Regions from separate parts of the Homo sapiens genome. Here all the other regions are reported to be linked to region 7. The links are microRNA targets in miRTarBase. Many come from high-throughput screens and were not tested one by one. Region 7 holds a microRNA gene; each other region holds the end of a gene's coding sequence.

Region 1 (4,081 bases), not on the chromosome of region 7:
GAAGCCAGGGGCCCCTGGTCCAAGCCCGTCTCAAAGAAAAATGTCAAACCTTTCAAACTAGTTATTTTATTAAACGATATTAACACACATTTCAAAAGGATTTCATTGTTGTTGCTTCTAAAGCATGTACTTGTTTTGTTTTCCACACCGAACACGTGAGAATATCAATCCAACATATCTATTTTAGATCTTAACAGGCGCCCCCGCCCACTTAAAAAAAATAGTGGGGGAACTGGGGAAAGCAGTAATTTACAGCGGCTTCAAAACAGTAACAGCTGAAGCTCAATTCTGCAGGAACCGGTAACTTCAGGATTGAGAGTGAATATCCTGCCATTAGGAAGTTTATCGTATTCACATTATCTCGATAGGTTTGCTGGACCCATATATATCACAAACATTTTATTCCTGGTATTGGAAAGTATAAAAGTCCTATTCTCTGCTTATTTTCCCCTCCCTGGAATCAAACCAAATTCTATTTACTCTCAACTTTTGAGAGGGTAGAGGGGAGCAGGGAGAGAGCTCTCATCTAAGCTGACTGAAGAGTAAACTCTTTCAAAATACTTAAGGACCCTATTTCTGAACTGTATCACTGAACTTTAAGTGGTACTAGTGTATTCACAACCCCTACCAATTCTCTGTCTGTGATTTTACAGTGAGTACCAAGGACCTTACAACTTCTCACATTCTGCTTCCATATGAATCATGTCCTTGCTAAGACACACTATGTTATGCTTTCTTTAAAAAATATCTTGTTTATTTGTTTAAACTCAGGTTGAAATACAAAAGTCAGAGCATGGTCACGGAGTTTTAAATCACAGACACAGAAAGAATAAAACCCCTTTCTTTCACGTTATGAATACCAGAACTGTCTTTTCTGTTTCACTATTTATCACATATATACACACTGTCATCTTCATTTACTGATGTAAATGTAAATTTTAAGATTTCCTTAAAATTAATAGCTGACAGTCTCATACAAATCCTCACTTCCATCCTAAAACAAACATATTGAGGATTTTGTGGCTTAAAAAACAAAAAAGTACCCCACAAAAACCCAACTCCTTAAAAGCCCACCTTCGAAACTGTCCAACAAAGTCTTCCTTTCATGTATTAACCATCATACTTTTGAGGACAATTATCCCGCCCCAACGTTCAGGAAGCCACTTTCCTGACATCCCCACATTTTCTGATAAAAATTAAATGGTCAGAGAGCCTTATCAAGTAAACACTACTTTTAGCTTAAACAAGAGCAGCAAAGAGAATTCACATTCTTTTATTCTAGAATGAAAAACATCCCATTTAATTTCTGCAAAAAAAAAACCTATTTCAATTTTGAAAGTCAAATATCATTTCCCCACCTCCCACCCCATTTTCTCTTATGCTTTTCCCTAACAAATGTCTTAGGACTCAATATAACTATACTTTCTTTTCTTTGCTACACTACATACCCCATCCCACACGTAAGGTCATGGTATCATGCATTTTTGTGGGGAGAGCTACAGGGCAGAGAGGGTCGAGGAAAGAAAGAACAGTTGGCTTAAGACCAGACAGGCATTAAGAAGATGAATGACCTGCAGCATCCTAACCCCAGAACACATGGCGAGCCCAAATAAATAACAGAATAAATTACGCAAAAACTCCCAAATCATGATGTGCACCTGGTTTATGCTGCTCTTTCTCTGAAAAGTTCATTCTGAGAGAATCATTTTCTGTCACTACATTGCCCACCCTCCCCCATCTTTAATATTCTACTGGAGGAAAAAGCAACCCCATACTTCCTATAGTTAGTTCTATACTAACTTGGAAGAAAATATGAAACTTGCCAGAATTCTCTGGAAAACTAAACACATACTGTTTTACTCATCTAGCTGGAGATTATCAGTTGAGTATGCCTTGGGGTAAGACACTAAATTAAAAAAAAATTGTAGTAAAGCAACATTTACTTTTCAGTGTCCCTAGATATAAAGATATAAACACTCAAAGTACAGTGATTGTCTATTTCCCAAGTACTAGATGTAGAAATACAAACAAGTCTTTCAGTCCAGGGAGAAGGAAAGCACTTATCTTGCATGTAAAACAACTAAGGGCAGAAATGGTCTTTATTTCCTATTGGGAGCGAGAGGTGGGGGTAAGACTTGAGCCTTGAAATGGGATAGACACATGTGTATAATATAAAGGAAAATGCTACTGAATCTCCTCCTTTAAAATATCAAGAATAGGGGTGAATAACACGACTGAGGCAAGGGGAAAAGGAAGATAAAGACAAATATTTCTTTCTTTAATAGTTAACCTTTGTTGAAAACCACCAATAAATATCACTTACATTAGGGAGGCACCATGGTAAAATTAATGTCTACTTCTTATATTTAAAAATGCAGGGATAATATTTCTGTTGCACCTTTGTATCAATAGTCAACTGTAGTGACTGTCTTTCTGGCCACAGCAGAAGAAAAACTGAGGGAGATAAAGTCAAAAAGGAAAAGCAAGAGGCATGAGCTTGGTGCAAGACATGTGAAACTACCTTGAAAACATTTCCTATTCTCTTGTTTACAAAAAAACAGGCAGGTCACATCACACCATTAATGCTTCCTTTCCTTATTTTACATACTGTAGTCACTCCTTATTTTAACCTTGAGGCTGATTAAAAAAAGATTTTAGGAGAAGGGTAAAGAACTAAACTTCAACATGCCTTTAAAAACAAAACAAATAAACCTGACAGGTTCAAGGTCTCTCACATTTCCTCCCTTGCAACATCTCTTGGCTGTTAGCAGGACACAGATACACAGGGAAGGGAGCCGAGCTGGCTACAGCAGTTACTAAGCTGCCGAGAGAGGGGACGGGAATCCTTCCATTGACTACTCGATAAGCCAAGCCCAAAATAACATCCCAACATTGCACATGTGGTTATCTGTACTGATGGAAGTTTTATTTCAAATGTAATAATACTCTTCAATAGATGGGGTAAAATAAAGATTGTTTTCCTCCCCACTCCCCAACCCCCCAGCCAAATGAAATGGCTTTGGTTGTGTTTCTTTACTTTTTTTTTTTTTTTTTTTTTTTAATACAAACAACTTGGGGAAGGTAGATAAGTGCAATGGGAGGGAGGATTGAATTGAATAGTAAAACGTAAGCGTATGTGATTTCTTACTTTGGAAGAGAGGCCCTTTGTTATAATAAAAAAAAAATCGAGAAAGAGAAAACAAATAAAAACAACAACAATAAACCAAACTCCTACTTCCAATGTTCTCTAGACTGTTCAAAATGCCTTTCCCTTGGTTTCCATCAGTACCTGGGAGGGAAGAATGGGCGTTTTGGTGCAAAGAACGGAGGGCCCCTAGCAAAAGGTGGCCTGGGTCTCTTTAAACTGTGAAATGGGTCTCTGCTGAGAAAAGGTTCCCTAGGCCGAAAGTCTGGCCGGGGACTCCGTAAGATTATACCACTCCGGCTGATGGTGTCTCTGTGTGAGGGACCCAAGGGGGGGCCACTGCTGCTGTTGCTGCCTCCCCCACCTCCTCCTCCATGGGGTGGGCCCAGGTGTTCCAGAGAATGGGAGGGTAGGGTGAGGCTCTCTCGTACACGGCTAAGGCCAGGGCCGTTGAGGTCCCGTTGGGTGGGGCCCCCGTGGTCCCTGGGTCCTGGGAGTACCCCAAAATGCTCAGCCAGGGTCCCTTGAAGGAGGGAACTATGGTCCTTGGGAAATACTGCCACAGCCCCTGCCACTCCGTGCTCTGCCAGTGGTGGGGCTGGGAAGGGTACAACTCCAGAGTGGTCAACAGGGGGTGGAGGAGGGGGTGGAGTAGAAAAGGGGACACCACTCCCACCACTGCTGCTATGTTCCCCAGGAGGGGGAGGAGGAGGTGGGGTAGGGAAAGGAATTCCACTGTGCTCTCCAGGAGGAGGGGGTGGGGCAGCATGGGCCAGGGCTGCCTCCTTTGTGAAGGGGTTCGAAAGATCCACAGAGGGTAGATGAGTGGGTGCATCTCGAGAGAAGATACCACCATGATCCTTAGGAGGGACAGGTGGGGCAGATGATGGCCCCACTGGCTCTCTCTGGAAGGGTGTCCCATGTTCCAAGGGGGAT
Region 2 (4,077 bases), not on the chromosome of region 7:
CTGCATAGCCAAGTACTATGCAACCCATGTAAATTGACCTTGCTATTTTACATAGCATAGCCTCTGGATAGCTTTTATCACTTTCCCAGATGGTGTTTGGCCTATGTATTTTAGTGGAATGGTTTATTTTCTCCTTGATAGGTTTCAAATGCACAAGAAAACATTATACCCGTCTATCTGCATTTGAGTAGAATACAAACTGACTAATAGATAAACATTCTGTGTGAAAGTAAATAGCCTTAAAGTATACTGCCTTCACATTCCATTGATCAGCTCAGTCAGCAAAGTTTTTCATATTGTCACTAATGTTCTAAATATTTGGGAGAGAAGCATGCCAGAAGTGTAGAGTATTTCCATTTGTGTCACATATAAGGTCATTATGAACTACCTCTTGAATTTCTATTGATCCCAATACTGAAGTGGTTTCCTTCACTTCCTTTTTGTCCCTGTTGGAAATGTTGCTGCAGTTGGGAAGAAGGGAATTAGGGGCTGTAAAGTGGAATGGCTCAATCTCTTAGCCAGACAGTGAGGGATTTGGACTGGCTCATTACCTTACCTTCATTAATAGCCTTCTCCAAATTCTTAGCAGTCAAAAAGAGGCCAAGGGTATGAAGCCCCATTACTCAGTTGTACTATCACCGACTGTACACATTCACTTCTGAGGATGTGGTACCCCACCCCCACTCCAAGTTCCAGAATAGATGGTCAGAATAGAGCTCATTATTAAGCTAGTTTATAGAAGAGCTCATAATGCTGCCATGCAGAATCAAAGAATCACAGGAGAGCACTATCTACTCAAAGGTCAGCCATATCTCCTCCAACAGATCTTCATTTCTTCAACATGCCCAATTTCCTAAGAGATCAAATCTTGGATTTTGTGAGGCTAAATGAAAATCACATACGACTTCAGCTTCTGTCTAAATACATGGATTTTTGACCACTTGCATCTCAAATTAATTTTTAAGTCACTCAGAGTTCTAATTTTTAAGTCACTTAAAGCTAAAAGCCAAGATGTATGACTTCAATTTATTTTCAGTTTTATAAATGAGTGTAAAACACAATAGTGCAGTCATATATTTGGCATTAAATCTTACTAGCCACAAAAAAATGTGGGTCAATATTGGATTTTCCAAAGTTGTCTAAATAAGACTGGGTTTGTCAAAACTTGCCAGACGCTTTCAAGTGAACACAGCATGTTGGCGGAAATGAAATATAATGTCTAAAAGTCAGAAAATAGGTCAGCACTGTGCAAAAGTAAACTTGTCAGTGAGATCAATATGAACCTACAAGTTAATGTGGATATTAGAATTTCCTTACAAGGGATGCACAGGGTAGACCCAGAACACGATTGTAGCATTTATTCACTTGCGAAAAGCAGAGGGCGTATTTAAGTATTATTTTTTGTATCCTTAATGAAAGGCACTGCTTTTTAATATGGAATATTTATATTTAAGCACAGCTTTAATTGACAGAATGTCACAGTAAATTAAATTCTGGTTCAATTGCTCAGTTTTTAGCAACATAAAAAATAAAAAAAGGGGAGTAAAGATCAAGCATCATAAAATTTCAGAGATAAGAAATCCCTCATGAGCTTTCTCTATGTTAAGTGTTTCAGAGAATTGGATATTGTGGATAAGATCGGTAAAAATTTTTGTAAGAAAAAAAAAACAGAAAGGCCTTTCTTGGGGCTTCTCATTGCATTTATTTAAATTTTTTTAAAAATGTACATCACTTATTTATTGAATACATAAAATGCCAGTGCTTTGCAACAGTTTTGTTACTGCATCTCTAAACTAAAAAAAGAAAAGGGGAAAAAACCCAGGAAAATACATTCAAAAGGCCAGGCTGTTCTGCTTATGCATGGGCAGTGGCTGTGGAAAGCTACAGCCTGCTCTGTGACAGTTCAGAAGCATTGCCAAACATCAGCCCACTATCAATGAAAGGTTGCACATAAAGCATTAAAGGATACAAAGAACAACTTGACAGAGAGCAGGAGAAAAATAGGAAATTAAGAAAAATGCCACTTATGCCATGGGTAGGGGTGGGGCTGGTAGACTGAGGTGGAAGTAAGCACAAATGCTGATGTCTTTGGAAACTAGATTTACGGTGAAAGATGGAAGAAAACAAAGTAACATGTTTGGCAAGCTACATTGCAGTGTGTGTGTCCACTTCCAATTTTCTACTTTACTTTCCAAGAGAAATGTAACAAAACTGAGGTAGAAATAAAGCAGGAGCACTACAGCCCAGATTTCAAAATGAGAAGCAAAATTGCACTGACAAGAGTGGAGTCAAAAAGAAGGGGAGGAGATGGAGAGGTTCTTTGTGGATATATATATGTGTATGTAAGTTGGTTTGTTGGTTGGTTTTTGTTTTTATTTATTTGTGTATTTGTTTTGGTTGCTATCCTCTGCATTCTATCAAACAGCACGGCAAGTCTATAAGCTAGATTAGTGAATAGAATGACACCATTCCCAGCAGTTTTAAGAGATAACTTGCAAACTACCACCACCATCACCACCACTACCACCTATGCAATAAAAAGGCAGTCATAGTTTTTAGGTACTGTGACTTTCAGGGTCCTAAACAGGTCTTGTGGCTGACAGGTCTAGACACTAACACAAACTGAATAAGTAGCTTTCAATTAACCAGTGTACCTTTTAAGAACATTTTCACTTAATTATCAAGGAGCAATGTACTAAGAACTCTTGCAGTTATTGACATAAAGAATTATTCTGCTCTGGTTAATTCCCCATAATTAGTAAAAGAACTTAAAAAAATCCTTCCATTTCTACTTTAAACTGTAAATATTCAGTTGTATCACACTTCAGTATTTTTCTGGATACATTCAAAGTAATTTTCCTTGCTATTTTCCAATTGTTGAGGTAAACATACATTTTAATATAAAGTAACATTGAAGCCTATCCTATTACTCTCAGCAGTACATAGTGCTTTCAACACATTCCTTTGAGGTACTGTACAAATCACAATCACTTTCCTGAGTTTTTGCAGACAAGAACATTAAAAGAAATGAACTGCAGAAATTAAGGTCCAGATTACCGTTACCCTGTTTTACCTGTTCTTAGCTTAATACTGCAGAACAGACAGGATTGAGGAATACTGTTGCTCTTAAAATGGCAAAAATCTGGTTTTCTGTCATAACACAACTGTTCATCTCTTTAGTCCAATAATGTTTGAAGTTAAAGCTCTTTATATTAGCACATGCCACCAATGTAATTGTGAGGCAAACAAAAAATAAAGCACCACTCCAGGCACTTGACAGCAACTAAATCTCGAGAACAGCAGAATGGAATCAACACACGAGGTTCATGTCCTTCTGAAATCAACACACTTGCACCTTGCTCCTTGGTGAGTGTTGTCTAGCTTGAACAGAACTGAGCATCCACATATGCTTTCTGTCATCTGGGGCTTTCAAATCAGAAGCTCTCATTTGATGCACTTTTCCTCCAAATCTACCCTGACTCTAAAGATGCAACTTAATCGTCATCTTCCCCAGTACCCTTTGCAATTTAAACTCTACTGGAAAGGGGCTCTATTCCCTATGTAGCAGGTTTTATGTGTGTGTGCCAACATTCATTACATTTTTTTTTTCTAAAGAAGTTATCACTGACTGCAACCAAACATTTTGTTCCATTCAACATACATATCAAGCTCCTTTTGAGATATGCTAGGCTGAATCTTGCAGAAAGCATTTTCAAAGTCTTGATATGTAACGGGCCTCAACTGGCTGGGCATAATGGCTGAAAGGTCTGTGGCTGGCATGGCATGGAGGGGGCCCACCACTGCTTCCTGACACAAATGAGCCACATCTAGTCCAGAAAAGCCTTCTGTGCGCTGGACGAGCAGTGCAAACTCCTTGTCATTGAGACAGTAATTGTGCTGTGAGAGCAGTTGTACTATTATCTGGTGCCTCGCTGTGCTGTCAGGAAGTGGGATTAAAAGTCGTTTCATGAAGTACCTCCGAAGGGATTCATCTATTTCTTCTGGTTTACTGGTGGCACAAATTACTACGATTTGGTCCTCAGCCGAAGTTAGTACAGTGTCCAGTTGCATCAGAAA
Region 3 (4,080 bases), not on the chromosome of region 7:
TGTCTCAAAAAAAAAGAGATCTCAAGGTTTTTGTTTCATAGGAAGGAAGCTCTCTATTGCGTGGATCTATAAAATGATCCAAACTTCAGAGACAGGAAGCTGATAACTGGATTTATCTTCTTAATGGCTTTGGCTCATGAATAAATGATAATGGTTTATGTGTTTTTCTTATAAAAAGAAATGGAATTTGTATACCGATAGGAGTCCTACTTGCCACATTTGTTCTACTTATTAAGGGATTTCTAATTACTGAGACATTCTTTATATTATTTATAATAAGAAGTCAAAACTTTAACTGAAAGCCATTCTTTGACCACAGTTGGCCATTAGCTGAAATTCAGGAAATAGCACAGGTTTGATCACCAAATCAATAAATCTAGCCACAGGCTGACTAAAAGCTTCCTTTAATCTTCTTCCTATTAGGTCTTCCTTTAAATTAAACCATTCCCTTCATGAATTATTTAAGTGAATGGCATGGTTATAGAAAGATCACATATAACTCTATACAAAAATGCTAAAGGAACCTTAAAAAGTCCATTCAGCATACTTCAGGAATTATACTATGAATCAAGATGCTGTAGGCTTAGAAAAAAATGGGAGTGGGAGTATGTCCTGTAAAGCTTCAGAGAAAAATAGAAAAGTCAAGTTTATTTCCTGATTAGCCCAGGATGATTCCCAAAGCGCAGTTAAGTGTCTGGTCCAGACTAGCTATTAGCGATTAAGTAGTTTCTTTTCACTGTCAAGGCTTTTCCCTGAGGTAATGCCTAAATTCCTAATTTTAATATTTGATCTTATTTCTCTTAGCTCCATCCTCTCTCACCAATAAGCTCTCCACATTTCCACCATGCTAAATGCTTTCTCAACTCTGGAATTTACACTGTTCAAATCTTCCCTTTGTTCAACAGTTATAAAATTTTAGACAAATTTATACATTCCCACATTGTTCCTCTCAAAATTTACTCATTTATATAGTGCAATCAATATATTGTTTACATTTTATATAGGTTAGTTTCTGAATACTGTATGTTCTTCCAAATGTATCCTTACAAAGACACAGAGGAAGGGGGTAACCTTTCTGAATTCCAATTCCTTAATGTTTTAAAAAAAATTATTACTCTTTTCTTTTCCCTTAAACAATTCCCTTCTCAAGTCTTTATGTATCTACTTTCCAAACTTCTTTTCACTGTAGCAAATACCAAAGGAAAAATAAAAATCATTTCAGAGTCAATGAATCTCCTCCCTGCTCTCATTTATTAGATCAACTACTTCAAGGCTACATATGTGGCAGTACTTTTTAAGTGTTAACAGCTGTTAATACCTTGAAGTTGAAAAAATAAAAAAGCCAGAGAAAACATATCACAAGCAATCAGTTTGAATTATATGAAAAGGTACTTAGATCTTGACTTTCATATAAATACTAATTTTAACACTATAAAAGACAACATAACTATATATCATTTTTCTTTATAAAACTACCCCTTAACAGAATATTTGTAAGCTAGTCATCCCTTAGGTTTTTCTGTACTGATAAAAAGTTATTTTTAAAAGAAAAATATTTAAAATAATTGTTTCACAGAAACAGAAAATCTTATCAAATTCTGATAAAAAACTATAATCATGGGTACTCTTACCACACTATTTTCTTTCACCAAAGATGGATATTTAGGAAGTGGTATATTGGTTAATAAGATAAGCTTCTCAGTGATCTACAAAAGCGCCACAATAAAGATGAGGTAGTATGAGACTTTTCTAACCTTGTAAAAGGTAAATATCGTCTTTAGAAGAGATATTTATCCTGACATTGGTGTTATGATATCCGATATCCTGAGCCTCATCACTGCTAAGAGGTGCCATTTTTGTAGCTACATCTCATTGAGACTAAGACAATCTTGAGATCACTGAGGAAAAAAAAAATGCTAAAAGATAACGGTAATAGAGATTTTCCTTAATTTTGTAATAATTACTAAAAAATTATTTTAAAGCTATTATGGAAAAATGCCATTTTCATGTTAACAGAACTGCAAGATAGGGAAATGCTACTCACATAAAAGCAACAATAATGAAGAAATATTTGTTCTAACTTGGAAGTTTATGAGTCAAATTTCTTTCAATCTAGGTAGAAGCAGTTTCCTAATATAGCTAAACTAGCATCAAGAAATCAGTTACGATATTAAAAATGTCAATGTGTACAAAGGGTTAGACAGCTCACCAGAAGAAAATTGTCTATCTACATTTATTATTCATTGATTCCTTAAAAAAAGAAGATAGGATACCACTCCATTTATTTTTACTAGTTACTTTGGGCTAAAGATGTTTCTAAAAACGTTGCCCTGTTTCTGGGATAGTAAATTTAAAATATCACCCCTTTTGTCCAGTACTGTTCTGTATGGTGTAAGTCATGTAGCTGTCAAAAGGCTTTCTTTTTTTGAAGCCACATTACAGACTAAGTTAATTCTGAAGATAGGGATAATTATTTGGATCTTGTAGATCAAAAACAGTATTAAGCTTCCTGAATACTGAGCTCCATGTTTATTTCTGGAATCTTTATTCAAATTCAACTTAAAATAATGAAAAACTACTTAGGTACTCTTTGGTTACCAGTGGAAATTTGTGGCTGCTAATACATTGTGGAATTTCCCCAAAGTAACAGCTCAGAGTTTCTATAAAAGGGCTAAGTAGAAGCAACAGTTCATAAGCTAATACAGAAAAACCCCACAATTACTTTAGCACTTTAGTAACTACTAGCTACTAATAGTGTTATCATTATTTTCAAAGCTTCCAATGAGAAAGGAACAAGATTTATGTTTTGAAGATGGTTTAGCTCTTGCAGGTTGAGAGAAAGACCTATTCAGGAATGACAAATGATCCGGCCACATTGTAGAAGAGTAAGTGCACCTCCAGAATGATATGTTTCCATTTGATTCTCATTGACCAGATTAATCAAATTTAGTAATCCTGCTTTAGAGTTAATATTTAAAATAAAAATACACCAAGTTTGACTTGGTTTTGTTACTTTTAACATCCCTATTAGTAAGTTACAAAAGTCAATAACATTAGTATGAATGGTGAATTACAACATTCAGCTTTACTGAAGAATATCAAACTCAATGAAAAGGGGGACGGGGAACTATATTTTATATATAATACTACTAATGGCATAGATTAACAAAATATTTTACATGTAGGAAAGGACATAAGATTACTTTTAAAGAATAGTATGAAATACACAATATTCAAATGTGTTTGCAATGCCTACCAAATTTCAAATGTGCCTGGATCATGTATAAATTAAGGAAAAAGGATCATGTATAAATTAAGGAAAGAAAAAATGTAAGTATACAACCTACACGGTAAAAACAAAAACCAAACACCTGGTTAAAAATATCTATTTAAGCTCGAGTGTATAACCTTAAACAATTTGTGTATCACTAGAAAAATGGATTTATTAGTAAAATTTAGGGCAGAGATTTTATTTTGGACACCACTGCCTTTGTAGAAAAATCCAAAGTGGCATAAAAAGAAAAATAAAATATTAAAAGAAAAAATATATATTATCATTCCCATGTTCCCATCCTGTTACTAGCATTGCTGTTCTGGTGCATCAATCCTGAGTACTCTAACTTTTGATTTATAATGATATTCCTTCAGATATAATTTCATAGAAGAAGGAATTGGAAGGGCATCGATGCCATCATAAGTTGTACAGTTACAAATAACTGTTCTGCATATATGCTGCAGGGAAAAAGGGAAAGTCCGAATTAAGGGAGTGGATAGAAGTGGTTCAAAGAACATACAGGCGCTTGGGTCCTTATAATGTTCTAGGAGCCCAGTAATGTCAGGAGAATGGAAGACACAGGGGTCATGTGCATCAAAGCTAAAGTTGTGATTCCACTGTTCAATTCTAGCATGAAGAGAACGACTATAGCGTCTAAAACTAACAGAGAATAAATAGTCTTCCTGTGCTGAGTCTCGAAGTAAAAAGGTACCCTCTGGTTTTCCTTCCAGTAGTGCTTCGGCTGCGTATTTATCCATCACTCCCCAGTAACATGGGTTGTTATTGATCTGAAGGAGGTCTGGTAC
Region 4 (4,000 bases), not on the chromosome of region 7:
CAAATAGAACTTGCCAAATTTGATATGGTATTTGGTATTTCCTAGAATTCTTGATATAAAATGATACTTCTACGTATGTTCTCTAAGGTGTTTTAATTCTAACATTCTAAAATAGTTCTTTTTGCAATCATCATTAATCAGTGTGACCTGTTTCTTCAGGAGCCCCCACGCCCCGTGCACCCAGCACCCTTACCAGAAGCTCCACAACCACAGCGTCTGCCCCCAGAAGCTGCCAGCACATCTCTGCCTCAGAAGCCACACTTGAAGTTAGCACGCGTTCAGAGTCAAAATGGCATAGTACTGTCATGGAGTGTCCTGGAGGTGGATCGAAGCTGTGCCACTGTTGATAGCTACCATCTCTATGCTTACCATGAGGAACCCAGTGCCACTGTGCCCTCACAATGGAAAAAGATTGGGGAAGTCAAGGCACTTCCCTTGCCCATGGCATGTACTCTCACCCAGTTTGTATCTGGTAGCAAATACTACTTTGCAGTACGAGCCAAGGATATTTATGGACGTTTTGGGCCTTTCTGTGATCCTCAGTCAACAGATGTGATCTCTTCTACCCAGAGCAGTTAAACCTTGGAGCCTTTATATTTTCCTCTTTTAAAATTTCCACCTTTTGGTCTTGTTTTTAATCTTGTGCATGATACCCCATGTAAAATCCACCTTGTGCAAGATTTCTTGGACAGATGTGTGTATACACTACATTTGTTTATAACCAGAAGCAAAATAAACTCAGCCCACAAAGCTAGAATCTTTTCCTGGACAGTTTAGGCTTTGGGGTTTGGAAATGTAAATGTGTACCTTGCTTTAGTTTTGAGGCTGGGGAATATGTGTGGGTGTTTATGTGTGTTTTTCCTTATGTAGGTGTTATTGCATTGGAGTCTCCCATTTTCATTCTCAAATTTACCTCTTAAAGTACGAAGTAAGTAGATCAAAGGATTTGAGATGTGTAACTGGCATGATTCTGCTTTTGAAGGATCTATAGTATCATTTTAGTTAAGTGGGTCAAACAGAATCAAAACAAAACCCAAAGAAATAAATAAAAAACAAAATGGCTAAATAGTTTAAAATAGGTTAATTCGAACACAGGAAAGGATCTATTTGTTGTTTCTTTTGTCTGGTCTCCTGAGTTGTTAATTAGGTGAAAAAAGATCTGCAATGGCCCCCTCCCTTTCCTAATCTGGCTTTTACATTTATTTTGTGCCTTAAAGATTAACTACAAAGATAAACATGGCCAAAAATAAATAAATAAATATGGCCATATGTCCGTTGTTGCTTAGTCTTCCCTTGCAGCCTTTTACCCTTGATTTCTCCTTCATCTCTACCAAATATAGCACAACTCCTCAAGTAATTTTTTTTTTTTAAGATGGAGTTTTGCTCTTGTTGCCCAGGCTAGAGTGCGGTGGCACAATCTTGGCTCACTGCAACCTCTGCCTCCTGGGTTCAAGCAATTCTTCTGTCTCAGCCCCAGAGTAGCTGGGATTACAGGCACCTGTCACCATGCCCGGCTAATTTTTGTATTTTTAGTAGAGATGGGGTTTCACCATGTTGGCCAGGCTGGTCTTGAACTCCTGACCTCAGGTGATCCACCCGCCTCGGCCTCCCAGAGTGCTGCGATTACAGTTGTGAGCCACTGTATCCAGCCTACTCAAGTGATTTTTAAACCAAGGTGTGTGTATGTACATGGATGTGTATGTACACACACACACAGGTGCATGCATAGTCTCATCTTAGCCGGGCATGGTGGCGACAATCACATTTAACTCCAAAAATTTGACGTGCTATTTTCTTCTAAAACTATAGATGCTTTTATTTTTGGTCACTATTTAACTTTGTGTAAAGTGGACCAAGAGAAAACCATATTGTGGAAGACAGTTTTTCACACATTTTAGTATCCGTGTTGCACACTGTGTTAGAGATTATGAAAACCATTCTAGTTCAGTTTATCACCCAAAGCTATCACCCAACACTAACTCCTTAGTATTCTTTCAAAGGAAGCAAATAGTAAGATTACAATATAGAATGAGCTAAAATATCAAGGGGAAAGCTTCATTTCCTCTTTATTCTCTTTATCGTCCTTCCCATTTTAACCTTTTAACTTTGTTTTGATGGTGCCAAGTTGAGTCTGATGTACCCATTGTTAGCTTTGGATAGAATTTAAAGTATATCCCAGAATTAGCTGGGCATGTTGGTGCATGCCTGTAATCCCAGCTACTCAGGAGGCAAGGCTGGAGAATCGCTTGAACCCGGGAGGCGGAGGTTGCAGTGAGCTGAGATTGCGCCATTGCACTCCATCCTGGGAGACAAGAGCGAAACTCTGCCTCAAAAAAAAAAGAATTTAAAGTATATCCTTTGAGGTCATTTTATGTAACAATTAGATATAACCTCCTGTGTATCTCTCTGTTCCTCTTCAAAGTTATTAAAATTCAGCTTAGGTCATGGATTTTTAATATGAGGGCCAGCTGTACTGGTGTCAGGTAGGTGTTTTGGGTGTAGATAATTTAGGACTGGAGGGCTGAGTTAAGTTTTAGGAGGAGAATGTGGTTGAGAATATTTTGAAAGGAATTTATGGAGTTTGTGAAATAACTTCGAAGTCCTCTTCCTTTACAATATTTGAATTCATATTTGTACCTTCTCAAAATAGTGATTCATTTTTCCTAGAATTACAGGAGGGAGCTCTTTTACTAATGTTGTTTTGTTTGCAACTTTGATGGCTTATAATAGGAAGTATTCTAGTTGTAAAGAAAACTCTTTAGAGACTTTTGACTGGTCAGTATACTGAGGTGTGAGATTTGATTCATGATGAAGAAAGCCTATAGATTGCCAAAAAATTAATTCTCCAAACCACCTTTCACTCTCAGAAAATGAGACCACAAAGGAGTATGCTATAAATCAAATTTGCCAACCAATTATGTAGATATTACTCATTCTAGGACTAATGATGATGGTAAAGAAGTTGCCAGTGTTATGGCAATGAAAATTTCAGAAAGGAGGAGTTGATGATCTTCTAGATGTATATGAACACCTGTCTATATCTGCATGTATATGTTTTGACCTGCAGTGGTTGCAATGTTGATATGTGTTCAAGATTATTCCTGTCTACAAAACTGAAGGCCCATGTTCAAATTGTTCTTTATTGGGTGTTTTTATGGTCACGTGGTAACAATTTTCTTACCTAACCTACAAAAGGTTCTCTTGATGAACATTTTTATTTATATTTACTAATCTTTTTTAAAAAAAGCTTTCATAGCATTATATAATCAGATGAAGAAAGCCCAGTAGAATAAAAAAAAAATTCATTAGCCTAGCCTATATTATGTTTTCTGTCAAAGGAAAACAAATTCTCAAATAGGAATTCTAAAAATATTTACTAAAGTAAAATAACTACTTAAAATGTTTTATTCCAGTTGGAAGGAAGGTACAGGGAGAAATCGCAATTATTTAGGGGAGAAGTATATTTATTATAAGATGGTGTCCTCAAATTAGCCTACCATGGCACGTAGGGGCAGCAGCTATATTAGATTTACTAGAGGTGCTAAGTTAGAACACTAGGCTTTTATTGAGGCAGGTTTTAATATTGATAGATGCTTTTTGTTTGGTTTGTTTCTTCTGGGAGAGAATGGAGGACTTAAGTAGAAGTAGCTACTGATAACAGACTTTCTAGTAGCAGTTTCCACTCCACGGTTACCTTTTTAGTTTCATAGTATCTTTTCACAAAGTATTACAAATAAGCTAGATTCTCCCAGTTTGGGAATGCAAGTTTGCTACATTTTTAGCCTGGCAATATTTGTGTAGGTATTGCCTTATTGGAAATTCTGGAAACCTGATACTGCAACCTGCAATGTAGGATGTTTGTATGGCATTTAAAGGTAATGGTGATGTTTATTATTCTATACTTTGCATTCTGTGAGAGTAATTTTCACTCTGTCTTAAGTGTGAGTAAGCCTCTTCTAAAAATCTTGTTCTTGCCAAGAAATTTATAAATCACATACGA
Region 5 (4,081 bases), not on the chromosome of region 7:
TCTGTCAGTCAGCCGAAGGGGTGAAAGGTGAAAGTTCACCCAGCACTGCTTGGCTTTACCTTCCTATTAACGTCACGCCTTTCCACATTTGATCAGTTTATGTGATCGCTGATCATATAGAACTGTTACTGCCCCTATTTTCCCTATAAGAATACATTTAAGTCATGAGATGTTAAAACATTTCCTGGGGCCCACAGTGGGCATTTAATAGGGCCCAAGATGCCTCAGACCACTCCTGGAATGTTCACCGAATTCTTACAGAAAATTATACTGTTACACGATGATTGACTCAAATCAAGCTTTTGTGTTCTTATCTGAAATAATTAAGAGACAAGAAGTACATTCACTACTTACACATAACCCTCTATGAGCAGTAAGGACCTATTTTATTATTCTTGATTTTTCTGAAAACCAATTATACCCTTTACCTGAGGGATTCAAATTCGACTCCAAACTGAGCGTGAAATGCAATGAACTTGATGATCTCAGCCTAGCTCCCGAGAGGCAGCCAACCCATGCCATCCAATCTGACAAGATATGATTTGGTGCCATTACCAGTCTATTTGGGAGCATGTAGAGTAGAGATAAAGCAACAGGCATGCAACGCCTTTCCCAAACCACAGAGAGTGCCAGTGAGTTTCTGGAGGGAGAGCTTACCTCTGCACTTCTGCTCTACTGTCCTCTGGGAATAAGTTGCCTTTCCCAAGCCAGCTCTCCAGGGAAATGAATGATTAGAAGCAGCAGGGCTAGCGGAGCATACGGATTTCAACTGAGGATGTTTAAGATGAGTGAACACTGGAAAAGGTAATATTGTGAGAAAAACAGTCTTCAATACAATTGTTTTATTTAACACACATATGTACACAGGAACATTCAGCACACATAGAGTCTATTAAGTGGAATCATTAAGAAATGTCTGGAGAGGCAGACATTTTAATTCACTCGCTGTACACAGGGAGTTCAATCATCACATTTTCATACAGGTGTCACGTCATGTCATCTTTTGCTTGTAAATTACCAATGAAGCCACATATGTCTCTACATATACAAGGACAGGTCCAAATACAGTGCCAGTGAAATCAATAAAACATTAAAGGTGTACGCTGGGATGACAATGCAGAGTTTACCTCAGTGCTGAGAAATCTAAGCTGGGATGAAGTTTGGGACTGTGGCTATTAAAATAGCCAAGGAGAGATTTATGTTAACAAGAATGCAGATATTAGTTTAGTAGTTAGAGATGACCGTCTAATCATCAAACATCGTCCACCCCAGGGTTTTGCAGCCATAGCTTTCTACTGGCCTTGGTTGCCTGTGCAGACGGAATACGTGAAAGGCCTACCCACGCTTGTGGCCCAGGGCTATTGCTCCTCTGGGCCCCCTGGCTTTGTTCTCAACCTTCGTGGCGGGGGGAGCCATCCGTGTGTTTGCGGCAGGCTGCCTACCACTCTCACACCTCTTTCCTGACACACAGAACATTTTTGTTAAAGAAAATGCTAAGGTATACATTTACCTCATCATTCCAAATAGAGATGTAGTCTACAATAAATTAATTTCCATTTAAGTTCATAAAGTAAACATATGTTGGGTATAGAGAAGACTCTGGACCCACTGGAAAACAAAGTGAGCCTTTTACCTTACATTTCTCTAGCTATGCCAAACACAACAGCACGTTCACCAAACAAATAAAGTCTAAACTGTATAGGTCTTTGTTTCTTCCTTGGAAACTACATATATAATCTTTATAAATACAATGTACATGCATGTGCCTAAATTCACTTTTGAAAGAATACCCAACTCTAAAACCAAGGAACAGTATAGATTTGCCGTCAATGGAAATAACATCATATCATTATGAAAGAGATGATCTAATGGTCTTAATTTCTTAATATGCTCTTTAAAAATCTGTTTCAGTGAAATAACCAATGTTTGTTCCTAGACTTTGATCCTACTTTTTTGTATATCAGATAAACTCTGACAACCTAAACTTTTAAGACTAAATTCTCCCATTATCATTTTGGTTCCTTTGTAAACTTCACATATTTTCTCTGAATTTAACAAATAATTTTCTATTTTTGCATGTAATAAATGATTTTGCCCAACTAACCAACCAATCAACAATTAGGCAACCAAACAACCCCTCACAAGTATATACAGATCAAGGTTTGTTAGAAACAATTCATACAAAATATAATTCTATTTTTTTCATTATTATGAGCTAGAACCAGCACAATCTGACATAAGAAGAAAGTGGTCTAGTTAAAGCTTACTTAGAAGCATAATGAACACCCTCATTGCAATGTTTGCTCAAATAAATCGAGAGCCCACATATTTTTATATACACTCCTGAACATTTGTGCCATAGTTATTACTTTTCCAGAATACTTGTTTAAAAGAAATACCTTATTAGCTTTCCTTTAGTTGATCAGTAGTAGTTTGAAGGCTGAATTATAATAATTTCATAACTGACATATGCCACACATATGGGAACTACAGGATTGCAAGTTTTCCGGGGGAAAGGGGTAAGCTCTTTCTTCAACAGGATCTGTAGCAGTAGATAGGAGAGTCTTCATTTTCGGTACACGCTATGCTTCTGAACTTGGCTCTTTATCACAAAAGTCCCTTCAAGAGATTAGTTACAGTGACTGGATAATTACATTAACTAGATCATAGGGAGTGATTATTTTTATTTTAAACTACTAAATAGACTATCATTTAAGCAAGAGATGAGCACTTCAGAAGGCTAAGTGTCTGGAAAACTATTTTCTACAAGGAAAATATTTTTGTGTACATAATTAATCATGAATCTCAAATTGGTTAGCTGTTGATAAAGAAGGTGGTAGCTAAACCCTAGGAAATTGGATTGAGTAATTTCCTAGCAATCACCAGAAGAAAAGAACATGTAAACACAGAATCTTTTTGGTAAACAATATTTTAGGTAATTCAAAGGGCAATAATTTCAATCGTGAGGACTGCCACATGACCTCAACACCCAGTGTCAGAACGGCCAGATTCAAGCAGCACTTCAGAGGTGCGGTTGAGATGGCTAAAAATGCTGATCTGGGCTGGGAGTGCAATCACAGTGTTTATTGATTTTTGTGCTTCTGTTGCACCAAGCAACAAGAGCGTTCCCAGGAACCACTGGCTTTCCCCTGCCATCTCTGGCAGGGAAAAACTACCTGGTGACAGGATGGCCACATCCTGCAGAGCATGTGTGCGTGCCTCTGAATCGACAGATGGCACGAGCGGGTTCTGCCCCTGAGAAGCATGCACAAGTGACAAGACCCGGCCGTGCCACTGGATGGCACTGGGGTGGGCAGGCCCCTGGGAACAATCTGGTGTGAGGAAGGACAGAGCAACATCGGCTTGGATAATTTAGAGAACTAAAACGCAGTCACGGCGGCAGGCAGCAGCATTAGACCATGAAGCGGTGCTCCTTCCCGTCATGGGCCATGAGGATGACGTTGCGGTTGGAAGTCCAGATGAGCCGGGCCAGCTTGAGGGCATTGTGGGAGCCGGGGGACGCGGGCTGCACAGGGGGCACCTGGTAGGTTTTAATGCAGCGCAGCTGAGGTGCCGAGTTCAGCATGCCGATGCTTCCCAGCAGTGACGTGTTCATCTGGAGGGACAGGAGAGCACATGTGTCACTTGAACAGCCCTCTCCCTTTCCCTATCACAGAGACTGGGTCGATCTCTCCTGGCTACTTTCCCCTCCATCATGGTTATTCTCCTTCACCTAAGCTTGTTCTTAACCTCTCAAAAGTTCCTTTCAGTGTGCTTGGAATTGTTCCGATGCTGTTATGGTAAATGCAGAAATCTAGAGGAATTTTATAGGGGTAGAACCTGACAAAAGGAGAGTCCATGGATCTTTAGGAAGAGGGCTAAATTATACCTCTTAATAAAATGGTTCATTTAGACAACACAGATATTTGGAAATTGTGGATATTTAAAACTGAAGACTTTCATGTTCTTTACCACAATGCTAACTGCACTCACTCCCTGAAGGATGAGTCAGCGAAGACAAGTTTTGGGATTTGTAATTAGTTCAAGAAAAGGAAGCAAAGTTAAGCAGTAGATAGAGTGA
Region 6 (4,081 bases), not on the chromosome of region 7:
CCAGCACTTTGGGGGGCCGAGGTGGGTGGATCACTTGTGTTCAGGAGTTCGAGACCAGCCTGTCCAACATGATGAAACCCTGTCTCTACTAAAAGTACAAAAAAATTAGGCAGGCATGGTGGCGGGCGCCTGTAATCCCAGCTACTCGGGAGGCTGAGGCAGGAGAATTGCTTGAATCTGGGAGGTGGAGGTTGCAGTGAGCTGAGATCGTGCCACTGCACTCCAGCCTGGGTGACAGAGCAAGACTCTATCTCAAAAAAAAAAAAAAAAAAAAAAAAAAAAAAGAAACAGCTACAAAATCCAAATGCAGTGATGGTTTTGTGCAAAGATGAAGGCTGATGGGAGGACTTCAGAGGAGCAGGTGGGGGGCGGGAAGAACGAGTGTCCCTTCCCAGCCTTCCCCACACACCATCACCTCTGACAACAGGACACTGAAGGGGACTAACGTGTGCCCCACTCCTTCCTTTGGTCTCAGAGTTTACAATCCCTCAAGCTAGAGAGGAAGAAGTCTAGGAATATTATTTGAGAAAAATGTGTATTATGCAACAGCTACGAGATCAAGGCCCTTCCTTACCCAGGACTCTTCTCTGCAGCCCAGCAGTGGGGCTGAGTCCTGACTGCAGCAACTCCTGCTTGGGGACACTTGGCCTTGGCTCAGGGCCCGTCTTGTGCTCCTTATTATCCCACCATTTTGGTGGGTGAGCCACATGACGATGTATCTGTCTTCCTGGCTGGAAGGAGCAAGTGGGGGCGGGGCCGGGCTGCCAGAGCTTGTTCACCGTGGGATCTGGCATCCGGCATCTGGCAGCGCCCAGGGCAGAGCGAGCTTCCACTGTTGATCTGGGTGGGTTCTTCGGGCCATTTGCTAGCGTTTGTGTTTTGGACAATTCTGCTCTAAAATAAATTGTAGTATTTGGACGAAAATGAAGGTCAGGAAGAGGAATGTTCTTTTGGTTCCAAATTTTCTAAATAGACTGCTCTGATCCAGATAGAGTACCTTCCCTTTGGGCGGCTGAAGCCATGGATAGTTTATAGTTTGCTGCCCTCTTGTGGCACAGAAGTGATAAAAAGATTGTCTTCCCCTTTCAGATGCTGTCAGGCTCATTTCTCTGTTTGACAGTGAGCCATGGACAAGCTGTGGGGCAAAAGCAAGAACTGTACGTGGTCTCCATTTACAGAACTCCCAGGCTGGTGGAGGTGGCTTTTGGTACAACTCAGGTCTGAGGGCAAAAATACACACTTTGGCTTTGCACAAAGGGGCTGACGACCCCATACGTACCCTAGCACCTGGGCTGCCCAGCTAAAGAGGTCAAGTGGCCACAAGCTGAGCCTACGGTAATCTTTAATAACTAGAGTAAATTTCCTTGTGAACTGGAGAATTGGTAAGACAAGCTCAAAACCAGATCTTCCAACTGGCCTCCCTATCCCCCAGCTCCCTCCTTCCTTTTTTCTATCTCCTTAGCGATTGTTGTCTTCTCCAAAGGGTCTCCCCTTTCCAAACCCCAACATGATTCTGTTTTGCCTCCTGTTATGGACTGAATTCTGTCCTCTCCCAAATTCACATGCTGAAGCCCTAACCCCCAGTACCTCAGCATGTGAGTGTATTTGGAGACAGGGCCTTTGAAGAGGTGATTAAGGTTAAATGAGGTCATTAGGGTGGACCTTAATCTAATATTATAATTTACATATTATATATAATATATATTATAAATTATAAATTATATATCATATATTTTTATATAATATATAATATATACAATATATGATATATAATATATAGTATATAATATATAACAAATTATATATAATACATAAAATATATAATATTATATATCATATATTATATATAATAGTATATATATTTATATGATATATAATATATATGTATTATATAAATGTTATATATTTTATTATATATAATATATATGTAAATTATAATATATATTATATATTGTATAAATTATAATATATAATAAATATACCATATTAGATATATTGTAACTTATATATTATATAATTTATATATTATAATATATAAATTATATCTAATATGGTGTCCTCATAAGAAGAGGGGATTAGGACATATAGAGACAGATGGCAGGGCTGTGCACGTACAGAGGAAAGACCATGTGAGGACACAGTGAGAAGATGGCCAGCTATTACACAAGCCATGGAGAGAGGCCTCGGGAGACACCAACGTGGCCGACACCTTGATCTTGGACTTTTAGCCTCCAGAGCTGAGAAAATATTAATAAATTTCTGTTGGTTAAGTCACTTAGTCTGTGGAATCGTGTTGTGGCAATCTTCAACTAATACACCTCCTAATAAAATACTTGTTTCTAAAGGGGGAGTTGTTGCATGTTGAGGTTTTTACTGTGCACCTCTGTCTGGGGTGAATGCTGGCAAACTGCAGGAAGACTGCGCCATAAACCCTATCATGGTTTGGCTTCTTCCTTGACCCACTCAGAAAAAGTTCAGTTCTTCTGAAAAACTCACGAGTACTCCACAAGGTGGCACATATCACCCTCCACACCATCCTCATCTCGAGGTCTCTGTAGTACACCTGAGACCAAGGGGGGAGCTCGTGTACATTCTGGTCTTTGTCAACAGTGACTCCCAACCACACCCTTATTCTTTCAAAATATATTTTATTAGCGGCACATGGAATGTCAAGTTAAGCAAATTCTTTCCAGAGAGAAGGTGAGCCTGACAGACTAAAACGTTGAGCACGGATGATACAGCAGAAATAACATTTCCAGTGTAATGAGAGATAAAGAGGAATACTGCCCACCGAGGAAATGACTTTCTTCACCATGCTGACCACACTGCACAGCGCCCGATCCGGCTGGTGAGGATGGGGAGGTGGGAAGAATCTCAAAGCACTGGACAGGGTGAGGACTCAGGAAGTCACGGGGTCAGCCCTACAGCATCAGCTCCTCTCTGTTGTTGGAGAGGCCCTGAGCCCCATTACTCACTATACGAGGACCAGAGTGTCTTTGGCAGGTGGAGGCTGGCTCACGGGAGAACACCAAGTGAGGGGGCTCCTCTGTGAACCCAAGAAACTTCAAGGAACCCCACAGCGTCTCCCTTATGACCTCCCATCTCCAGATTAGGAAGCTATGGATTCCCAGAGGGTCCTTTGGAAGTATCTAGAAATGTCCAGGTAAGTCAGAGAAGGGCTGAACTTTCTTAGAAAAATCACTTTAGTCTCTCATACATGAAGAACATTTTCCTTAAAGGATTCTGGTTCTTTTCCCTGATGTTCTTGTGCAACGTTCTGAGGGTCACCTGGGCTTCGCCCACCACTGCTTCTACTGCTGCTGTGTCACTTTCAAACAGCTCCACCTCCACCGGCCCCTCCCTTCCCACCTTCCAGCCCACAGTGTCTGCAGGCTGTGGGTCTCCCACATCTGTCATGTCAGGATCATGCTGCTGCTTTCTTTCTTTTTTCCCTTTTCTTTTTTTTTTTTTTTTTGATACAGGGCCTGGCTCTGTTGCCCAGGCTGGAGTGCAGTGGAGTAATCATGGCTCACCTCAGCTTTGACCTCCTGGGCTCAAGTAATCCTCCTAATACGGGCATTTCTCTCATCGCTTCAGAACCCGCCCCACAACCAAACATTCAGATGCTTATTAAGGCAACAAAACAAGTGACAGACGGGACAATTTTTCCAATTCTAGATCTAATTGATTAGGCTATGTCTCATGAGGAGACTGTACTTGACCTCTAAGCTAGCATCTGGAATACAATCTTCCAGCGGCTTAGGGAAGGTCGGTGATAGTAGTATCGTCAGGATCAATTCCGAAGTGCAGCTTGCCGTCCTTGGCGGCTGCCCAGGGCATGGAGGTGGAGGTCCACTTTGCCACCCAGTCTCCTGTTTTGCTAACCACGATGAGGCCACCTAAACCTTTAACCCTTGACTTCATATAACCCAACGATAGGTCCGCAGCCTCTTCTACCGTCTTTCCTGAAAACAAGGAAGGGTTGAGAAACAACACACATTACTGAAAGGAATCTCATGGGAAAATCACTTGCCATTTGAAATGCCAAAGTGAGCTAGCAAGGATTTTTGGTAAATGAACG
Region 7 (4,081 bases):
AGCTGTGATTCCAGGCACGTGCCACCACACCAGCTAATTTTTTGTATTTTAATAGAAACAGGGTTTCACCGTGTTAGCCAGGCTGGTCTCAAACTGACCTCAGATGATCCGCCCGCCTTGGCCTCCCAAAGTGCTGGGATTACAGATGTGAGCCACCGCGCCCGGCCAGAGCACTGTTTTTTTTAATGGCCTTGCACTCTTCTTATGGACCTTTGCTGCCCTCAGTTGACCAAACATGACATCAGAAACAGATACATTTGTGTGTTTTAAAAACAGCTCCTAATACTGGAACAAAAATATTTAACTGTCTTGACAATACTCATGAGTATCTGCATGGCGACTTCAGAGTTGAGTTTAATCAAAGAGTTTATTCTTAGGTCCTAGTAGAAGAGCTAACCTCACACTCATCCCATTCTAAACTATGTGATTCAACACTGATTTTACATCCAACAAAGTGAAATCTTGATAGTTGGGTGTAAAAAGGAGAGTAATGGAGATTTCAGAGTAGTTGGGGTTGCTTACTTTTCATTTTTAATTCTTTAGGTTTTGTAAGTTACACACTTCAAGCATTATAGATGATCCTCTTTTTACTACTGAACTAATGAAGCCTTTTTCATTGCATTGTTCTGCATTTATTTCTACAGGGAGAAAACTGGTTGTCCTGGATGTTTGAAAAGTTGGTCGTTGTCATGGTGTGTTACTTCATCCTATCTATCATTAACTCCATGGCACAAAGTTATGCCAAACGAATCCAGCAGCGGTTGAACTCAGAGGAGAAAACTAAATAAGTAGAGAAAGTTTTAAACTGCAGAAATTGGAGTGGATGGGTTCTGCCTTAAATTGGGAGGACTCCAAGCCGGGAAGGAAAATTCCCTTTTCCAACCTGTATCAATTTTTACAACTTTTTTCCTGAAAGCAGTTTAGTCCATACTTTGCACTGACATACTTTTTCCTTCTGTGCTAAGGTAAGGTATCCACCCTCGATGCAATCCACCTTGTGTTTTCTTAGGGTGGAATGTGATGTTCAGCAGCAAACTTGCAACAGACTGGCCTTCTGTTTGTTACTTTCAAAAGGCCCACATGATACAATTAGAGAATTCCCACCGCACAAAAAAAGTTCCTAAGTATGTTAAATATGTCAAGCTTTTTAGGCTTGTCACAAATGATTGCTTTGTTTTCCTAAGTCATCAAAATGTATATAAATTATCTAGATTGGATAACAGTCTTGCATGTTTATCATGTTACAATTTAATATTCCATCCTGCCCAACCCTTCCTCTCCCATCCTCAAAAAAGGGCCATTTTATGATGCATTGCACACCCTCTGGGGAAATTGATCTTTAAATTTTGAGACAGTATAAGGAAAATCTGGTTGGTGTCTTACAAGTGAGCTGACACCATTTTTTATTCTGTGTATTTAGAATGAAGTCTTGAAAAAAACTTTATAAAGACATCTTTAATCATTCCAAAATTGTGTCCGTTTTCTTGAGCGTTTTGATTTTTTACTTTTAGCTTATACCAGCTGAATGGCAGCCTTGCCTAATCCACCTACAACAAGAATTTCTTAAGCTTTCTTTTATTTGCATGAGAGAGCCACTACCAAGGCATGTTTTGTTATGCTGAAACTGGGCTGCTGCATACTGCTAAATGGCACCTCTGGGATTGGCCTACCTGGGGATTTCTTGGTTTGTGAAAACAGGAGAGGAGAAATATCTCATACAAGTGAAAGGATACTGGAGAGAGAAATTACCCATTTCTAAAAAAAAACCACACTCTGTCGTATCTGTGTTAATGTTTTCTAGCATGTACTCTGGTTTCAACAGACACAAATTTATATGTTAACCCAGTTTTCTTGCCGTTCTGTAAGTGTTTTATTCTTAGTGTGATTTTTTTCCATTGGGATGTTTTTGATTGAACTTGTTCATTTTGTTTTGCTTGGGAGGAAAATAAACAATTTTACTTTTTTCCTTTAGGAGCATTATGAGCATTATGTCAGAATAGAATAGAATTGGGGTTCGATCTTAACAGGCCAGAAATGCCTGGGTTTTTTTGGTTTGTTTTTGTTTTTGTTTTTTTATCAAATCCTGCCTGACTGTCTGCTTGTTTTGCCTACCATCGTGACATCTCCATGGCTGTACCACCTTGTCGGGTAGCTTATCAGACTGATGTTGACTGTTGAATCTCATGGCAACACCAGTCGATGGGCTGTCTGACATTTTGGTATCTTTCATCTGACCATCCATATCCAATGTTCTCATTTAAACATTACCCAGCATCATTGTTTATAATCAGAAACTCTGGTCCTTCTGTCTGGTGGCACTTAGAGTCTTTTGTGCCATAATGCAGCAGTATGGAGGGAGGATTTTATGGAGAAATGGGGATAGTCTTCATGACCACAAATAAATAAAGGAAAACTAAGCTGCATTGTGGGTTTTGAAAAGGTTATTATACTTCTTAACAATTCTTTTTTTCAGGGACTTTTCTAGCTGTATGACTGTTACTTGACCTTCTTTGAAAAGCATTCCCAAAATGCTCTATTTTAGATAGATTAACATTAACCAACATAATTTTTTTTAGATCGAGTCAGCATAAATTTCTAAGTCAGCCTCTAGTCGTGGTTCATCTCTTTCACCTGCATTTTATTTGGTGTTTGTCTGAAGAAAGGAAAGAGGAAAGCAAATACGAATTGTACTATTTGTACCAAATCTTTGGGATTCATTGGCAAATAATTTCAGTGTGGTGTATTATTAAATAGAAAAAAAAAATTTTGTTTCCTAGGTTGAAGGTCTAATTGATACGTTTGACTTATGATGACCATTTATGCACTTTCAAATGAATTTGCTTTCAAAATAAATGAAGAGCAGCTGTCCTTCTTTCCTCTTTTAAGTGTTCAGCTGTGGCATGCTCAGAGGTTCCTGCTGGATTCCAGCTGGAGCGGTGTGATACCCTTCTTTTTCAGCTGTTCGTGCCTTCCTTTCTTGTATCCACCAAAGTGGAGACAAATACATGATCTCAAAGATACACAGTACCTACTTAATTCCAGCTGATGGGAGACCAAAGAATTTGCAAGTGGATGGTTTGGTATCACTGTAAATAAAAAGAGGGCCTGGGAATTCTTGCGATTCCATCTCTACTTTGTATAAGTCTCATTTTGTGCCTTACACATCTGCAGTATTTATCATGTTCCAACTTGGTGACTGTCAGGCAGTGCAATACATCAGCAGTTTATCACCGAAGAGCTGAGGAATACCTCCCTTAAAACAGACAATGTCGGCCGGGCGCGGTGGCTCACACCTGTAATCCCAGCACTTTGGGAGGCCAAGGCGGGCAGATCACCTGAGGTCAGGAGTTTGAGACCAGCCTGGCCAACATGGCGAAACCCCATCTCTACTAAAAATATAAAAAATTAGCCGGGCGTGGTGGTGCACGCCTGTAATCCCAGCTATTCAGGAGGCTGAGGCAGGAGAATCCCTTGAACGCAGGAAGCAGAGTTTGCAGTGAGCCGAGATGGCGCCACTGCACTCCAGCCTGGGTGACAGAGCAAGACAAAAAAAATAACAGATGATGTCATATGAAAATGTGCAATGTCCAGTTTTCCCATAGTTTTCTGTATTCTCTGTGTGCATAATCTGGAGTATGAGTCTGGGAAGAAAAAGGTTTTTAGTTTCATTTGGATAGTGGCCACCTCTCCATTCCCTACGAATGCTAGAATGAAGTTACTTTTTTTTTTTTTTTTTTTTTTTTTGAGACAGAGTCTTGCTCCGTCGCCCAGGCTAGAGTGCAATGGTACAATCTCGGCTCACTGCCACTTCCGCCTCCCAGGTTCAAGCGATTGTCCTGCCTCAGCCTCTGGAGTAGTTGGGATTCCAGGCGCCCACCACCACACCAGGCTAGTTTTTGTATTTTTAGTAGAGACGGGGTTTGGCCATGTTGGTCAGGCTGGTCTCGAACTCCTGACCTGAGGTGATCCACCTGCCTCGGTCTCCCAAAGTTCTGGGTTCACAGACGTGAGCCACCATGCCCACGTAGAATGAAGTTTCTTAAATACACTAGTTAATTATTGAAACATATGCAGTATTGAG

What was found. The annotated mature microRNA hsa-miR-21-5p reads UAGCUUAUCAGACUGAUGUUGA and lies in region 7 at 2,150-2,171, shown strand. An mRNA with a match to its seed (bases 2 to 7 or 8) in the 3' UTR can be bound and repressed. Matches are read on the target gene's strand: a 7mer-m8 pairs with bases 2 to 8, a 7mer-A1 pairs with bases 2 to 7 and ends in A, and an 8mer does both.
Region 1: miRTarBase lists RPRD2 as a target of hsa-miR-21-5p. Seed matches in the 3' UTR shown: 7mer-A1 at 1,236-1,242.
Region 2: miRTarBase lists FIGN as a target of hsa-miR-21-5p. Seed matches in the 3' UTR shown: 7mer-A1 at 3,081-3,087.
Region 3: the mRNA of SOCS4 is a reported target of hsa-miR-21-5p. The part of its 3' UTR that is shown has no 7-base or 8-base seed match.
Region 4: the mRNA of ATF7IP is a reported target of hsa-miR-21-5p. Seed matches in the 3' UTR shown: 8mer at 3,734-3,741.
Region 5: miRTarBase lists WDR7 as a target of hsa-miR-21-5p. The part of its 3' UTR that is shown has no 7-base or 8-base seed match.
Region 6: miRTarBase lists ASRGL1 as a target of hsa-miR-21-5p. The part of its 3' UTR that is shown has no 7-base or 8-base seed match.

The regions. Positions count from the first base shown.
Region 1 is chr1:150,472,536-150,476,616 of GRCh38, reverse strand. RPRD2 (regulation of nuclear pre-mRNA domain containing 2) reads right to left here. Exons shown (of 11, transcript NM_015203.5): 11 at 51-4,081. The coding sequence ends at 3,283. Among named protein-coding and RNA genes, the nearest start is that of TARS2, 13 kb to the left of the region's middle. RefSeq lists an enhancer at 3,621-4,081.
Region 2 is chr2:163,605,931-163,610,007 of GRCh38, forward strand. FIGN (fidgetin, microtubule severing factor) reads right to left here. Exons shown (of 3, transcript NM_018086.4): 3 at 1-4,077. The coding sequence ends at 3,622. Among named protein-coding and RNA genes, the nearest start is that of FIGN, 130 kb to the right of the region's middle.
Region 3 is chr14:55,043,864-55,047,943 of GRCh38, reverse strand. SOCS4 (suppressor of cytokine signaling 4) reads right to left here. Exons shown (of 3, transcript NM_199421.2): 3 at 1-4,080. The coding sequence ends at 3,580. Among named protein-coding and RNA genes, the nearest start is that of MAPK1IP1L, 5.7 kb to the left of the region's middle.
Region 4 is chr12:14,497,495-14,501,494 of GRCh38, forward strand. ATF7IP (activating transcription factor 7 interacting protein) reads left to right here. Exons shown (of 15, transcript NM_018179.5): 15 at 160-4,000. The coding sequence ends at 579. Among named protein-coding and RNA genes, the nearest start is that of PLBD1-AS2, 31 kb to the right of the region's middle.
Region 5 is chr18:57,026,539-57,030,619 of GRCh38, reverse strand. WDR7 (WD repeat domain 7) reads right to left here. Exons shown (of 28, transcript NM_015285.3): 28 at 828-3,616. The coding sequence ends at 3,413. Among named protein-coding and RNA genes, the nearest start is that of WDR7-OT1, 11 kb to the left of the region's middle.
Region 6 is chr11:62,391,963-62,396,043 of GRCh38, reverse strand. ASRGL1 (asparaginase and isoaspartyl peptidase 1) reads right to left here. Exons shown (of 7, transcript NM_001083926.2): 7 at 2,632-3,965. The coding sequence ends at 3,760. Among named protein-coding and RNA genes, the nearest start is that of SCGB1A1, 25 kb to the left of the region's middle. RefSeq lists enhancers at 944-993, 1,104-1,173.
Region 7 is chr17:59,839,124-59,843,204 of GRCh38, forward strand. It overlaps MIR21 (microRNA 21), which reads left to right and starts at 2,143; the gene lies at 2,143-2,214. VMP1 (vacuole membrane protein 1) reads left to right here. Exons shown (of 12, transcript NM_030938.5): 12 at 645-3,132. The coding sequence ends at 788. RefSeq lists enhancers at 1-465, 1,189-1,918 and a silencer at 3,204-3,398.